Linked DNA regions of Homo sapiens: region 2 is linked to region 1. Evidence: fine-mapped expression QTL. Tissue or cell type: whole blood. Region 1 holds a variant in brackets; the other region holds the start of a gene. All regions are shown on one strand. Distances are between the middles of the regions.

Region 1 (8,253 bases):
GCCCCTCAACCCGAGCCCCATGGCAGACGCAGGCTGGCGTCTCCCCGCAGAGGTCTTCGGGCCGTGGCTCCCACCCTCAGCCAACGGCCGGAAAGGGGGAGCCTGGCTGTGGCCTGTGGTCGGGAGGCCCCACCAGCAACGCCTGGAGCCCAGGCGGGCGTTTCTGAGAAATCGATGGTCTCAGGTGGTGGCTGGTAATAATCATGTTGATAATAATCATTGTCCCCTAGTCCGGAAACAGGGAGAGGAGGAGACAGCTCTGGGGCTGCAAGTGACCTCGGGAAGGCAATTGACCCTTCTGTGCCTCAGTTTACCCAGCCTCCACGTGGCCCAGCATGTGTGGGGAGCTTTCCGAGGAACCGAGGTCACAGCGGCACTCGAGACCCGCAGCTCGCCTCCGGCCCCCACCCCGCAAACCCCAGTCTTCCCATCTCCAAACCCAGGGCCGACCTCAGGGCTGTGGGGACAGCGAGGAAGGCCGGTCTCCTGGGAAGCTCTGATGATTTCTGCCTTTATTTTATTTTATTTTTATAGGTGGGGTTTTGCTATGTTGCCCAGGCTGGTCTCGAACTCCTGGGCTCCAGCGATCCTCCCTCCTCGGCCTTCCAAAGTGCTGAGATCACAGAAGACAGCCACTGCACCTGGCAGATTTCTGCCTTTATTCAGCAGTTATTGAGTGCCTAGTGTATACCAGACCTCATGCTAGGAGGTGAGGATGAGGCAGTGACCGCACCCCAGCCTGTAGCACTGACGTTCTGTGGGATCCGGAGTCCAGTGGGACATGGCTGTACATGGGGGTCTTCACCTTTTTTTTCTTTTCTTTTTTTTTTTGAGATGGAGTCTTGCTCTTGTTGCCCAGGCTAGAGTGGAATGGCACCATCTCGGCTCACCGCAACCTCTACCTCCCGGGTTCGAGTGATTCTCGTTCCTCAGCCTCCCGAGTAACTGGAACTACAGGCGCCCGCCACCACAGCCGGCTAATTTTGTTTCTGTATTTTTAGTAGAGACGGGGTTTCACCATATTAGCCAGGATGGTCTCGATCTCCTGACCTCATGATCCGCCCGCCTCGGCCTCCCAAAGTGCTGGGATTACAGGCATGAGCCACGGTGCCCGGCCTTTTTTTTTTTTTTTTTTTTTTTGAGAAGGAATCTTGCTCTTGTTGCCCAGGCTAGAGTGCAGTGGCGCGATCTTGGCTCACCGCAACCTCTGTCTCCTGAGTTCAAGGGATTCTCCTTCCTCAGCCTCCTGAGTAACTGGGATTACAGGTGCCCACCACCACGCCCCGCTAAATTTGTGTGTTTAGTAGAGACGGAGTTTCTCCATGTTGGTCAGGCTGGTCTCGAACTCCCGACCTCAGGTGATCCACCTGCCTCAGCCTCCCAAAGTGCTGGGATGACAGGCCTGAGCCACCGCGCCCAGCCCGGCAGGTCTTCACCTTTCAGTGGGAGCGTTCTTAGTGGCAAAGTTCAGGTCGTAAATTGCAGCTCACACAGCCGGGTGATGGCGTTCACGGCAGTGGCTAGCAGTGGGGTGCTCGTCAGCGCTTAATAATGAACAGGCTGGGGCCGGGTGCAGTGGCTCACGCCTATAATCCTAGCACTTTGGGAGGCCGAGGCAGGTGGATCACCTGAGGTCAGGAGTTCAAGACCAGCCTGGCCAACATAGTGAAACCCCGTCTCTACTTAAAGTACCAAAATTAGTCAGGCGTGGTGGCAGGTGCCTGTAATCCCAGCTACTTGGGAGGCTGAGGCAGGAGAATCGCTTGAACCGGGAGGTGGAGGTGGCAGTGAGCCAAGATTGCACCATTGCACTCCAGCCTGGGTGACAGAGCGAGACACCATCTCAAAAAAAAAAAAAAAAAAAAAGTCATCATTGAACGCTCCAGACCTGTGTTTTACCAAATGTAAAGTGTTCTCAATAAAGAATGAAGTGAAATGAAGCAACAGGAAATGCGTGGAAAGGAAGGTATGAAAAGGCCCCACAACGAACTCGGGCTCTGCGAGATGCGGGCGGCCTCTGGAAGCTAAAAAACGGCAGGAAACGAATTTTCTCCTGGAGCCTCCGGGAAAAGCCAGCCCTACCGATGCCCTGACGTTAGCCCAGAAGGGCCTGCAGGGGCTTCTGACCTCCAGCACTGCCAGAGAATAAATTGGTGCCATTTCGTTTATTATTATTATTATTATATTTTCTTGAGATGGAGTCTCGCTCTTTCGCCTAGGCCAGACTGCAGTGGTGCGATCTCGGCTCACTGCAAGCTCCGCCTCCTGGGTTCATGCCATTCTCCTTCCTCAGCCTCCCAAGTAGCTGGGACTACAGGTGCCCGCCACCACGCCCGGCTGATATTTTGTATTTTTAGTAGAGATGGGGTTTCACCACGTTAGCCAGGATGGTCTCAATCTCCTGACCTCGTGATCTGCCTGCCTCAGCCTTTCAAAGTGCTGGGATTACAGGTGTGAGCCACCGCGCCCAGCCTCATTTATTATGTATATATTTATTTTGAGACAGGGAGACAGGGTCTTGCTCTGCCGCCCACGCTGGAGTGCAGCAGTGCAATCAAAGCTCACTGCAGCCTCGACCTCCTAGGCTCAAGCCATCCTCCCACCTCAGCCTCCCAAGTAGCTGGGACCACAGGCACCTGCCACCACCAGGCCCGGCTCATTATTTCATTTTTTGTGGAGACGGGGTTTTGCCATGTTGCCCAGGCTGGTCTTGAACTCCTGGCCTCGAGCAATCCTCCAGCCTCGGCTTCCCGGAGTGCTGGGATTACAGGTGTGAGCCACCATGTCTGGCCCAAGTTGGTATCATTTTAAACCACTACGTTTCTGGGAATTCGTTACAGCAGCTGCAGGAAAGATTTTGGGAAATGGAAAGCTGTTTCCAGGGCCTGGGGACAGGTGGGACCCCAGCTCAGGGTCCGTGTACTTGGGGACCATTTCCTGCTCTGCTGTGGTCTACTGGACCGTCTGGCATCGCTGTGACCGCATGGGCCGTGCTCCATCAATATTGTTTTTTTGTGTGTGGGTGTTTTTTTTTTTTTTTTTAGATGGAGTCTCGATCTGTCGCCAGGCTGGAGTGCAGTGGCGTGATCTCAGCTCACTGCAACCTCAGTGTCCCGGGTTCAAGCGATTCTCCTGCCTCAGCCTCCCCAGTAGCTGGGACTACAGGCGTCTGCCCCCACGCCCGGCCAATTTTTTGTATTTTTAGTGGAGATGGGGTTTCACCATGTTGGCCAGGCTGGTCTTGAACTCCTGACCTCGTGATCCGCCCGCCTTGGCCTCCGAAAATGCTGGGATTACAGGCATGAGCCACTGCGCCCGGCCCTGTTTTTATCTTTTAGAGACAGGGTCTCCTTCTGTCGCCCAGGCTGGAGTGCAGTGGTTTGATCTCGGCTCACTGCATCCTCTGCCTCCTGAGTTCAAGCGATCCTACTGCCTTAGCCTCCCAAGTAGGTGGGATTACAGGTGCCTGCCACCACGCCCGGCTAATTTTTGTGTTTTTTTGTTTTGTTTTGTTTTATTTGTTTGGTAGAGATGGGTTTTGCCATATTGCCCAGGCTGGTCTCAAACTCCTGAGCTCAAGTGATCGGCCTGCCTCGGCCTCCCAAAGTGCTGGGATTACAGGCGTGAGCCATCGCACCCGGCTGTCCGTCAATATTGTCAAACGACTGGACAGCAGGCACTCTGGTCTCCACGGTCGTCGCGTCAGCACGAGTGGGTCCCCTGGACTTGCTCCTACCTCCCCTGCTGCCCTCCGTCGCGGAGCACTGAGGCAGAGACCTGGAAAACGTCCCCAGCTCCACGGGCGTTAGAAGGAGAATTGCCCGAAGCTGCAGGCGTGTGGAACTTTGTTCCCTCACGATGCTGTCCCTGTCCCGGTCGCTGATGGGGACACAGTAGGGAGAGGGTAAGCGCCTTAGCCCTGCCACACAGTGAGGAGCCAGGGGGCCGGGGCTGCTGCCTCAGAGGAGCTCCCACTGCCTCTCGGGACCGATTCTATCCAGAGCTGGGCCA[T/A]TTCCTTCCCTTTTGGTGAACAGTTGTGAAATAAACAACCGTCCTCCAGCGTCTCAGAAAACCGAGCTCCTGGCAGCCCTGAGGAGGGGGCTGAGTGGGGGTCACTGTTCCCACTTCCCAAACTGAGGCCCAGAGAGGGGAGCCGATTTGTCTGGGGCCACACAGCACAGGGTCTTGACCCATGAGCCGCTGGACTGCGATTCTCCTGGAGGGTCTCTCCATGGCAGATCTGAGCGGCTCTTCAGGAGCTCAGACACCAGCCACTGCAGGGAGTCAACAGCAATGGTGACAACAGCTTCCTTTATTGTATTTAATTTTACATTTTTATTTTATTTATTTTGTTTTTTTGAGACGGAGTCTCGCTCTGTCACCCAGGCTGCAGTGCAGTGGCACCATCTCAGCTCACTGCAAGCTCTGCCTCCCGGGTTCAAGTGATTCTCCTGTCTCAGCCTCCCGAGTAGCTGGGATTACAGGCGCCCACCACCACGCCCAGCTAATTTTTTGTATTTTTAGTAGAGATGGGGTTTCACCATGTTGGCCAGGCTGGTCTTGAACTTCTGATGGCAGGTGATCCACCCGCCTGGGCCTCCCAAAGTGATGGGATGACAGGCGTGAGCCACCGCGCCCGGCCCCTCCCCTGCGAAAAATTGTTTTTCAAGACGAGATGTTGCCTGGTGGCTGAGACTGCAATCACAGCTCACTGCAGCCTCTGCCTCCTGGCTCCGCCTTCCCTGTAGCTGGGACCACAGGCTCACAAAACCACCAGGGTAATTAAAAAAAAAAAAAAAGCTAGACACGGTGGCTCACGCCTGTCATCCCAGCACTTTGGGAGGCTGAGGCGGATGGATCACGAGGTCAGGAGATCGAGACCATCCTGGCTAACACGGTGAAACCCCATCTCTACTAAAAATACAAAAAATTAGCCGGGCACGGTGGCGGGCGTCTGTAGTCCCAGCTACTCGGGAGGCTGAGGCAGGAGAATGGCGAGAACCCGGGAGGCGGAGCTTGCAGTGAGCCGAGATCGCGCCACTGCACTCCAGCCTGGGCGACAGAGTGAGACTCCGTCTCAAGAAAAAAAAAAAAAGTTTTTTTGTAGAGATGGGGTCTCACTATGCCGCCCAGGCTGGCCTCAAACTGACCTCGACTGATCCTCCCACCTTGGCTTCCCAAAGTGCTGGTGTAATAGGCATGAGCCACTGAGCCTGGCCTCACTTTATTTTTATTTTTTTGAGACAGATGCTTTGTCACCCAGGCTGGAGTACAGTGGTGTGATCTCTGCTTACTGCAACCTCTGCCTCCCAGGTTGAAGCGATTCTCCTACCTCAGCCTCCCAAGTAGGTGGGACTACAGGTGTGTGCCACCACACCTGGCTAATTTGTTTTGTATTTTTAGTACGGACAGGATTTCACTGTGTTAGCCAGGATCGTCTCGATCTCCTGACCTTGTGATCTACCTGCCTCGGCCTCCCAAAGTGCTGGGATTACAGGCATGAGCTTCTGTGCCCAGCCTCACTTTATTTTTTAACCCCAATAAATGTATATCCACAGGACATTGCTTCTTCTTTTTTTTTTTTTTTTTTGTTGTTGTTGTTGAGAGGGAGTCTCGCTCTGTCACCCACGCTGGAGAGCAGTGGCGCGATCTTGGCTCTCAGCAACCTTTTCCTCCTGAGTTCAAGAGATTCTCCTACCTCAGTCTCCCAGGTAGCTGGGATTACAGGCATGCGCCACCACGCCCAGCTAATTTTTTTTTTTTTTTTGAGATGGAGTTTCGCTCTTGTTGCCCAGGCTGGAGTGCAGTGGTATGATCTCAGCTCACTGCAAACTCTGCCTCTCGGGTTCAAGCGATTCTCCTGCCTCAGCCTCCTGAGTGGCTGGAATTACAGGCGCCCACCACCACCCCCAGCTAATTTTGTATTTTTAGTAGAGATGGGGTTTCGCCATGTTGGTCAGGCTGGTCTTGAACTCCCAACCTCAGGTGATCTGCCTGCCTTGGCCTCTCAAAGTGCTAGGATTACAGGCGTTGCCAACGCGCCTGATCTTTTTTTGTATTTTTAGCAGAGACAGGTTTTGCCCTGTTAGCCAGGCTGCTCTCGAACTCCTGACCTCAGAGGATCCACCCGCCTCAGCCTCCCAGAATGTTAGGATTACAGGCGTGAGTCCCCGTGCCCGGACCTGCTTCCTATTTCTTGAAATGGAAGATAGCTGCCTTAAGAATACACATTGCACTGGCTGGACGCAGTGGCTTGCGCCTGTAATCCCAGCACTTTGGGAGACTGAGGCAGGCGGATCCCCTGAGGTCAAGAGTTCCAGACCAGCCTGGCTAACATGGCAAAACCCCATCTCTACTAAAAATACAAAACTTAGCTGGGTGCGGTGGTGTGTGCCTGTAATCCCAGCTACTCGGGAGGCTGAGGCAGGAGGATCACTTGAACCTGGGAGGAGGAGGTTACAGTGAGCCAAGATTGCACCGTTGCACTCCAGCCTGGGCGACAGAGTGAGACTCCATCTCAAAAAAAAAAAAAAAAAAAAAAAGAATACACATAGCACAACCCAACACTACCTGCCTTCCAGCCAGACTGGAGAGGGCTGGCTTGGCCGCTACTGGGGGTCCCTGAGCTGTCCAAAGGCCCTGCTCCCCGGAGCTCTCTGGCCTCAGTTTTCCCATCTAGGGAATGGGTTGCCCTGGGGCAATGCCGAGAGTGCTGATGAGAATTCAGCAAGGTTGGCTGGGCACAGTGGCTCACGCCTGTAATCCCAGGACTTTGGGAAGTTGAGGCAGGCGGGTCACCTGGGGTCAGGAGTTCGAGACCAGCCTGGCCAACATGGTGAAACCCCGTCTCTACTAAAAATGCAAAAATTAGCTGGGGGTGGTGGCGGGCACCTGTAATTCCAGCTACCCGGAAGGCTGAGGCAGGAGAACTGTTTGAACCCAGGAGATGCAGGTTGCAGTGAGCTGAGATCGCGCCACTGCACTCCAGCCTGGGTGACAAGAACGAGACTCCGTTGGAAAAAAAAAAAAACAGCAAGGTACTGGATGCGGCATGCTGGTGGGGACTGGGGCCCTGGCGCCCCTTGTAAAGCGCCTGTTTGCCCATCCGTAAGCTGGATCCTGCCCCGTCCTTCCCATGGAAGCCATCACAGTCAGAGAAGAGGGTAGAAGACAGGAAACCATCCATTCATTCACTCAACTCATTCCGTGAGCATTTATTGAGCACCTACTGTGTACAGACAGTGTTGTGGGCCTTGGGGACTCAGCAGTGAAGAAGACAGGCAAGTTCCTGCCCTTGTGGGGCTGACATTCAGCAGAGAGGCAGGAAGGAAACGCTGAACACAACATGTAAATGACATTGTCTGTCAGAAGAATTTAGTGGGAAAGAGAGTGTGGACAGACAAGAGGAATAGCAAACGCCAGGCACGGTGGCTCACGCCTGTAATCCCAGCACTTTGGGAGGTCGAGGCAGGTGAATCACCTAAGGTCAGGAGCTCCAGACCAGTCTGGCCAACACGGTGAAACCTCGTCTCTACTAAAAATACAAAAATTAGCCAGGCATGATGGTGGGCACCTGTAATCCCAGCTACTCAGGAGGCTAAGGTGGAAGGATGGCTTGAACCCAGGAGGTGGAGGTTGCAGTGAGCTGAGGTTGCGCCATTGCCCTCCAGCCTGGGCAACAGAGCAAGACTCTGTCTCAAAAAAAAAAAATTAGCCACGTGTGGTGGTGCACACCTGTAGTCCCAGATACTCAGGAGGCTGAGGTGGGAGGATTACCTGATGGGGGAGGTCGAGGCTGCAGTGAGCCAAGATCACATCACTGCACTCCAGCCTGGGTGGCAGAGTGAGACCCTATCTTATTCAAAAAAATAAAAACAACAAGGGTACCGAGGGCACCCAGTGACAATGGGGAAGCTGGGGAAGTTCTCCCAGAGGAACACACAAGGCGTCTAACAGCAGGTGTCTGGATGGCTGAAGCCCAAGCTGGTTGTGGGGCAAGGAGAGGTGAGCAGGGAAGAGACAGGATTGTCTGGGCTCAGCTTTGCCTTGTGGGGCTGCAGGGCACTGGGGAACCATAGATGGTGTTTGAGCTGGGGCAGGCCAGGGCATATTTCTCTGGTGAAAGAGTGGAGTAGGGAGAGGAGGTGGGGAGACCCGGAGGCGACATGGCTCAGGGTTGGGGTGGGGGCCATAAGGCCTCAGCTAAAGTCATGGCTGGGGAGAGGCGAGGGGGGTCTCTGACTCAGGGACAGG
Region 2 (8,022 bases), 24 kb before region 1:
ACAGGAATCTATGCACGCCATGGCCCTACTGTGCGCCTGGCACTGTCCACATCCCACCTGGAACCTCTAACACTGGGGTCTGTGCCCATGTTACAGATAAGAAAACAGGCATAGGCTGGGCACGGTGGTTCACGCCTGTAATCCCAGCAATTTGGGAGGCCAAGGCAGCTGGATCGCCAGAGGTCAGGAGTTCGAGACCAGCCTGGCCAACATGGTGAAACCCATCTCTACTAAAAATACAAAAAATTAGCTGGGTCTGCTGGTGCATGCCTGTAATTCCAGCTACTCAGGAGGCTGAGGCAAGAGAATTGCTTAAACCCGGGAGGCAGAGGTTGCAGTGAGCCGAGATTGCGCCACTGCACTCCAGCCTTGGCAACAAGAGCGAAACTCTGTCTCAAAAAAAAAAAAAAAGAAAGAAAAAGAAAACAGGCCTAGAAGGGTCCCAGGGCCTGGCACACAGTGGGCACCCACGGCTGCTATAACAAATTTGCACAAACTGCCTGGCTTAAAGCAACACACGGGCTGGGCGCAGTGTCTCATGCCTGTAATCCCAGCACTTTGTGAGGCCAAGATGGGCAGATCACCTGAGGTCAGGAGTTTGAGACCAGCCTGACCAACATGGCAAAATCCCGTCACTGCAAAAAAAAAAAAAAAAAGTAGCCGGGTGTGGTGGGAGGCGCCTGTAATCCCACTTAGTCTGGAGGCTGAGGTTGCAGTGAGCCGAGATCGCACCTCTGCACTCCAGCCTGGACAACAGAGTGAGGCCCTGTCTCAAAAAAATAAAAATGGCCAGGCATGGTGGCTCACACCTGTAACCCCAGCACTTTGGGAGGCCAAGGCGGGTGAATCACTGAGGTCAGGAGTTCAAGACCAGCCTGGCCAACATGGCGAAACCGCGTCTCTACTAAGAATACAAAAATTAGCCAGTTGTGGTGGCAGGTGCCTACAATCCCAGCTACTCGTGAGGCTGACGCAGAAGGATTGCTTGAACCCGGGGGCGGAGGTTGCAGTGAGCCGAGATCGCGCCATTGCACTCCAGCCTAAGCAACAGAACGAGACTACGTCTCAAAAAAAAAAAAAAAAAAGTTCCACACGGGTCTGGCTGGGAGAAGATCGAGGTGTTGGCAGAGCTGCATTCCTTCTGGCAGCTCCAGGAGAGAATCTGTTCCGCGCCTTTCCAGGCTCCTAGAGGCCGCCCACATTCCCTGGCTTGAGCCCCCTTCCTCCATCTCCAAATCCCGCAATGGCAGCCAAGTCCTTCTCTTATCCTGTCTCTAACCATAGAGGGCAGGCGTCTCCTTTTTTTTTTTTTTTTTTTTGAGACAGAGTCTCGCTCTGTCACCCAGGCTGCAGTGCAGTGGCACGATCTCGGGTCACTTCAACCTCTGCCTCCCAGGTTCAAGTGATTCTCCTGCCTCAGCCTCCCAAGTAGCTGGGATTACAGGTGCACAATACCAGGCCCACCTAATTTTTTTGTATTTTTAGTAGAGACGGGGTTTTACCATGTTGGCCAGGCTAGTCTCGAACTCCTGACTTCAAGTGATCCTCCTGCCTCGGCCTCCCAAAGTGCTGGGATTACAGGCGCACACCACCAGGCCCACCTAATTTTTTTGTATTTTTAGTAGAGACAGGGTTTTACCATGTTGGCCAGGCTAGTCTCGAACTCCTGACCTCAAGTGATCTGCCTGCCTCGGCCTCCTAATGTGTTGGAGGTTCACAGGTGTGAACCTAATGTGTTGGTGGTTCACAGGTGTGAACCACCGCGCCCGGCCAGGCATCTCCTCTTCTACGGACCCTTCCAGGACAGTGGGCCATCCGTATAACCCAGGATGAACCCCTGTGTGAAAGCCCTCAACTCAGTCCCATCTGCAGAGCCCCTTTGGCCAGGGAGGGTGGGACACCCACGGGTTCTAGGGATGAGGGCCCCATGGTCTCTGGGACCGCCGTTCTGCTGACCACCCCCCACTGCTCTCCCCCTCACTCACAGCACAAGCGTCTGTTTCCAGCGCACACCCCTGCCGCTCCGTCTGACGTTCGAGTCTCAACCTCAACGTCTCTTTCCTCTGGGAAGCCTTCCTCAGTCTCCCCCAGGCCCGGGTCAGGCCTGGGGCACCTTTGCCATCTGGGCATCCTCCGCCACAGAACAACACTGGATTGTCACTGTCTGTTTACCTGTCAGGATGTACCTGGAGGGAGACAGAAGCCTGGGGGGTGAGCAGAGGCCACGAGGAGCCACGGTGGGTGTCTGAGCCAGGGAGAAGTGTTATGGCAGCTGGGGTAGGAAGTGGGCCGCAGGGGCCAGGCTGCGGGCTGGAAGTCCTAGGATGAGCCTCGGGCCTGGATAGGGTGGGGAGAGGGGCAGAGCCGGGAGAGGGGAGGTCATCACTGGGGTCTCAGGAGGAGGCGGCGCTCTGGAAAGGGTCAGTGACCTGTTAGAGGTCACCCTGCACAGAGCCTCTGGGTTAGGGAAGACAGAGCCGGGAGCAGGAGGCCACTGGCAGCTGGCCTCGGTTTCCCCGGAGAGGGCCGGAACCCACGCCAGCCAGACAATGACCCTTTGATTCGCACAGCCCAGGCCGGAGTGGCCAAGCCACGGCGGGGTCAGGTCTTGGCCAAGGTCACACTGTCCAGCCCCCGCACATCCTCAGTGAGAACACAGGGTCCCATCCCTGCCCCACTCCCCAATCCCGGGAGAGTCCCGGGGGAATGCCAGAGGCCAAGGCCAGGTCGAGACGGCGGGGTGTCCCCCGTCAGTGAGAACACAGGGTCCTGTGCCTGCCCCACTCCCCAAGCCGGGGAGATTCCCGGGGGAAATGCCAGAGGCCAAGGCCAGGTCGAGACGGCGGGGTGTCCCCCCTCAGTGAGAACACAGGGTCCCGTCCCTGCCCTGCTCCCCAAGCCGGGGAGATTCCCGGGGGAAATGCCAGAGGCCAAGGCCAGGTCGAGACGGCGGGGTGTCCCCCCTCAGTGAGAATACAGGGTCCCGTCCCTGCCCTGCTCCCCAAGCCGGGGAGATTCCCGGGGGAAATGCCAGAGGCCAAGGCCAGGTCAAGACGGCGGGGTGTCCCCCCTCAGTGCCACTAAGGCAGAACTTGGCCCCTGGCCACTGGCTGCTGGGGGACACAGGCTGGGCAGCTAAGGTGGAGGAAAGGGTACAGGTGTGTCTTCTGTGGGCACAGATCTCACTCAGGCCAGAGAAGGGGCTGTGCCGTGGGGCTGCTGGACACGTCCGTTTCCACCTGCGGGGTGGGCAATGCCGGCACAGCGAGTGGCCAGACACAGGCATGCCCAGCAGACACCCAACCGCTCTCCACCACCTCAACCTTCTGTATTTTCCTGAAAGCATTTACCACTCCTTGAAGTTATAGATTAATTTGTCTCTGCATTTTGTTGTCCAAACCAGGAGCTCGGTGAGGGTGTGATGGGGTCTGCCTTGGTCACCGTGGCACCCCAGCACCCCGCAGGGTCCCTCTGGCCAAAAGAGATGTTCACTGATGCCCTAGAAGCAGGAACAGAGGGGCTCCCCTGCGCTCGCCAAGGGCGCCTGACAAATCTGGAGGCCCCCATGACAGAATCAGCTCCAGAGTAGGAAATGTGTCTGGCTGCACGAAAGCCCCCTCGGGCGCAGCGCCTCCAGGCCCACGCAGATGTCGCTGTCATACATTGTTGGAAACGCCTCTGCTGGAAACAGTGTTTGCTGAATCTTGGAGGGAGAGGAAAAAACCTAGTAAACATTCTTGTTGAGGTGATCTGGGGGAATGTCTGCAAAGGCTTGGAGGGCTGATGGGGCAGAGCTGCCCAGGGGCCCAGGACAAAGGCCAGGCGTGCGCGCGCACACACACACACACACACACACACACACGCAGTGGCCTCCCTGGGGGCCGTGGCTGGGCGAGGCCTGCTGTTGTCCGAGATGCTGGAAGGAGCTGTGTCTCTGGGTCTGTCCCGGCCGCACCCCGTTCTGTCCCACACCCAACCACTCCCCACCCACAGGCCGGCTCCAGCGGCCAGGTGGACGGGTGCGCGGCCCGCGCTGTGAGCAGGGAACCATATCCAGCTGAGGTTTTGGGTGTGTGGGGCGGGTCGGGAACAAGGAGGCCGGGTTGGGGGGCTCAGACCACACTTGGACCATGAAAGTGACCACATGCAAATCACAGAAACGGGATGCAGGGATCCACAGACGTGCTCCTCTTGGGTCCCCGTTACCTCACCGCCACCCCTGAAACTGAAGACCCCCAAACCCACTTTAATTCCTGGAGACGGCCCCTCGATCCACCCAAAAGGCTGCCACCACCTCGAACCCACACCCCTGTCCCGGTTCCGCCCTGGGTCCAGCCACATCTCCCCAAATGCATTCTCTGGCTCCGGAAGGGGACCCGGGCGCTCGCCCCCAACTGCCCCCCGCAGCGGCCGGGCCCGGCGCCTGCCCACCCCGCGCGGGACACGGCCTCGCCCCCGCCACTCCCGCGCCGCGCCCCGCCCCGCGCCCCGCCCCGCCCGCGGCCCGCGGGACCTTTATAGGGAGCGCCGGCCGCGCGCTGGGAAGTCGGTGCCGCTGCCGTCTCTGCGTTCGCCATGCGTCCCGGGGCGCCAGGGCCACTCTGGCCTCTGCCCTGGGGGGCCCTGGCTTGGGCCGTGGGCTTCGTGAGCTCCATGGGCTCGGGGAACCCCGCGCCCGGTGAGTGGGGCGGCCAGAGGGGCGGGCGGGGCGGGCCACCCACGTGGGGCTGCGCGGAATGCGGCCGGGGGGACGTCGGGGGGCGCGGCGGCGGCGGCGGGGGCGAGGGCGGTGTCCGGCGCAAGCTGGAGCCGGGAAGGTCTGAAGGAGGGTCACCAAGAGGTCAGCAGAGCAGAGGTTTCTAATCACAATGACCGCTGACATTTATTGAGCGCTTAGTGTCTACCTCTCCCCTCCCTGAACCTGTGCCATCCCGATAGTGCCGGAGCTCTCTTCATCTCCGTCTTCCAGATGGGGAAACTGAGGCTCAGGGTCACACAGCCTGTAGCAGGCAAAGCCAGGGTTCTAGCCGCGACCGTCCGGGTCGGTCCTGGTGCCGAGAGGTAGTGCTGGGTGTCGGGAGCCAGGCCCTCCAGCTGGGGCTGAGAGCTTTCCCGGGTCCTGGGTAGACGGGGCATGGAGTCTCACACCTGGGACTTGCCGGGAGGTGCCAGGCAGGAGACGGCCCCACTCCTGGCCTCAGTTTCCCCTCCTATGATGGGTGCCAAGGTGCTGCGTTCCACAAGCTGGTCCCTGGCAGTGTCTGTGAACCAGCAAGCGCTCTGGGATGGGGGCTGTGGCCGTTCCTGCCCCCAGGGACGGGGGAAGAAATGGGGGGCTCTCTGGCTCCCCACCCCCCATCCCTGCAGCCCCACCCCACCCCAGCCCTGCGCCAAAGGGAGAGCAGAGCCCCCTCCCCGAAGGCCACGTCCCTGGGGAGACAGTGAGCTCATGCAAGGGGAATGTTCCCAAGTTGGAGTGAGTAAGAGGCGGGCCAGGCGGTGGGGGGGCTGCCAGGCGCGGGGCTCCGCGTGCCCTCGCCCTCGGGTGCTGTCTAGACAGAGGGCAGAGGCGGGAGAAGCGGCTCCAGGGCCTGCTGACCCTGACATGCCCAGTGCCTGGTGTTTGGTGGTGTTTGAGGGGTTGGGCAGGGTGCCAGCCCCTGGCCTGGGGGCTTGGAGGGTACGGGAAGGGACCTCCTGGGGTGGGTGGGGGTTGGTGGTGAGGCTGTGGGGGGGGGCACGTGGAGCTCAGAGGGGAGGAGACATTTCCAGGGTTCTGGAGCCAGGGTGGGGACACCCATGTGGTTTTCTGCCCCTTCTTCCTGGGTGGGGGTAGATCATTCCGTGCGTAACTACTCAGCACCACCTGCATGCATCTGTGGGCGGGCCAGAAGCTGGGTGTCAGGAGTGGCCCAGGAGAGCACCCCGTTCCCCGGCCCGCAGGTGGTGTTTGCTGGCTCCAGCAGGGCCAGGAGGCCACCTGCAGCCTGGTGCTCCAGACTGATGTCACCCGGGCCGAGTGCTGTGCCTCCGGCAACATTGACACCGCCTGGTCCAACCTCACCCACCCGGGGAACAAGATCAACCTCCTCGGCTTCTTGGGCCTTGTCCACTGCCTTCCCTGCAAAGGTGAGACCTCAGGCCAGAAGCAGGGCAGACGTCTCAGCTCAGGACCAGCCACAAACAGTCATGGTGGTCGAGGGCCGAACGTCCAGGGACTGAGCCCGTCACAGGGGTATGTAGGAGGCTGCAGGGGGATCCCAGCCTCAGAGAGGGACTGGGGGGACTTCCCGGTTCCCAGGCTCCAGCCTCTTGCAGCTCAGGACTCAGGAAGAGACCACGTGGCTCCAGCCTTTGCTGGGGCTGAGCTCTCTGCCTGGGTGGCTCTTCCCACCTGGTCGATAAATGTCTGGCTTGCACCTAGCTCCTGGGAAGGTGGGTTTGCCATTCTGGCCTGTGACCCCAAATGTCCACACCAGGGACCTTCACTGCAGACTCCAGGGTCTGCGGTGGGGTTACAGCTGCATGTTTAACAAGCATTTGCCTCGGGACCCTGTTTTGAGAGGATGCCTCCCACATCAGACTAGGGGCTCTTGGTTGGCGAGTGGCACAGAACGAATGAATAAGATTCTCCGCACTGGAGGATGATGGTTTTTTTTTTTTTTTTTTTTTTTTTTCCTGAGATGGAGCCTCGCTCTGTCACCCAGGCTGGAGTGCAGTGGTGCGATTTTGGCTCACTGCAACTTCGGCCTCCGAGGTTCAGGTGATTCTCTTTCCTCGGCCTCCCCAGGGGCTGGGACTGCAGGCGCGCGCCACCACACCTGGCTAATTTTTATGTTTTTGGTAGAGACAGGGTTTCACCACATTGGCCAGGCTGGTCTCAAACTCCTGACCTCAAGTGATCTGCCAGCCTTGGCCTCCCAAAGTGCTGGGATTACAGGCGTGAGCCACCATGCCTGGCCTGTTGGGGCACATCTTGAAGGAGGTGGGCATTAGAGCTGGGGTGTTGGGGGATGTCTAGGAGTTTGCCAGATGGGGCCGGTATGGGAGAGTGGATCAGGAGAGAACATGGCTTGAGGTTAGGTCCTGGTGGGTGGGGTCAGGCAGAGGAGCCAAGGGGAGGCTGAAGCTGAGGGCTGCAGACCCGAAGGCCAGGCTGAGGAACTCTGCTGGCCTCTGAGATGTGATTAATCCCAGATCAGCCTGGCTGGGTGGTCCTGAACTCACTGCCACATACCCCTGCTCCCTCCAGACCCCCCTCTGGCTTCTGGGAGAAGGACAGTCTTCAAAAAGTGCCTGGCCTGGGCATGAGACGGCCCAGGACCCCCCACCCCCAACCTCATCTGGCCCTGGGGACGGAACTCAGGCCCCCTTCCGTTCTCGCTCGCATAAAAGCCACCCTGGCCGAGCATTTCCAGATGTGCCTGTGAGCCGCTGTGCCGGGGCCGCCCAGGTGCGGCCCACATGCCCTGCAAGGGCTGCGTGGCGGGCGCTGGCCATCCCCTAAGGAGTGCCGCACTGCCTTGGAAGTGGGGCTCCCTCGTCAGCCCCACTTTACACACAGAGAAACTGAGGCTGGCACATAAACTCAACAGCTGTGTTCAGAGGCCCTACCAGACCCCCAGATAACAGAAAGGGGGTTGGTCATCTGGGTCCTGGCTGCAGCTTTCAAACTGAGGTGCTTGGGCCCCTGCACTCATAGCTGCGACCCGGCCTCAGTTTCCCCATCTGTAAAATGATGACTTGGGAAGATGCGATAAGCCTAGGAGGCGATGAGCATTCACATTGAAAGCGGGGGCGGGGACCCCAGAGAGAGCTTCCCTAGCAGGACCTCAATATCCCTGTCTGAGCAGCGGGGCTGCGGGGCAGCTCCTGGTTCAGAGGCCTAGGGCTGTGGGGGGCCCCCTCCCCTGGAATCGCTCCCCAGGCCAGGAGGGCCGTCCAGCGCCCCGCCCTCCCCGACGCCTCCTGGGGGAAGGTCCTGGCAGCCCCAGACTCGCGCCTGGCAAGGGCGGAACACCC

The links. PIP is the estimated chance that this variant, and not a neighbour inherited with it, causes the effect.
Region 2: FSTL3 starts here. The variant in region 1 is fine-mapped to the expression of FSTL3 in whole blood (TOPMed, PIP above 0.99).

Annotation. Positions count from the first base shown.
Region 1 is chr19:695,410-703,662 of GRCh38, forward strand. PRSS57 (serine protease 57) reads right to left here and starts at 43. Exons shown (of 5, transcript NM_001308209.2): 1 at 1-43. The coding sequence starts at 21. The variant T/A (reference allele first, on the strand shown) is at 4,012.
Region 2 is chr19:671,849-679,870 of GRCh38, forward strand. It overlaps FSTL3 (follistatin like 3), which reads left to right and starts at 4,544. Exons shown (of 5, transcript NM_005860.3): 1 at 4,544-4,678; 2 at 5,944-6,129. The coding sequence starts at 4,576. RefSeq lists an enhancer at 6,898-7,400 and a silencer at 7,855-8,022.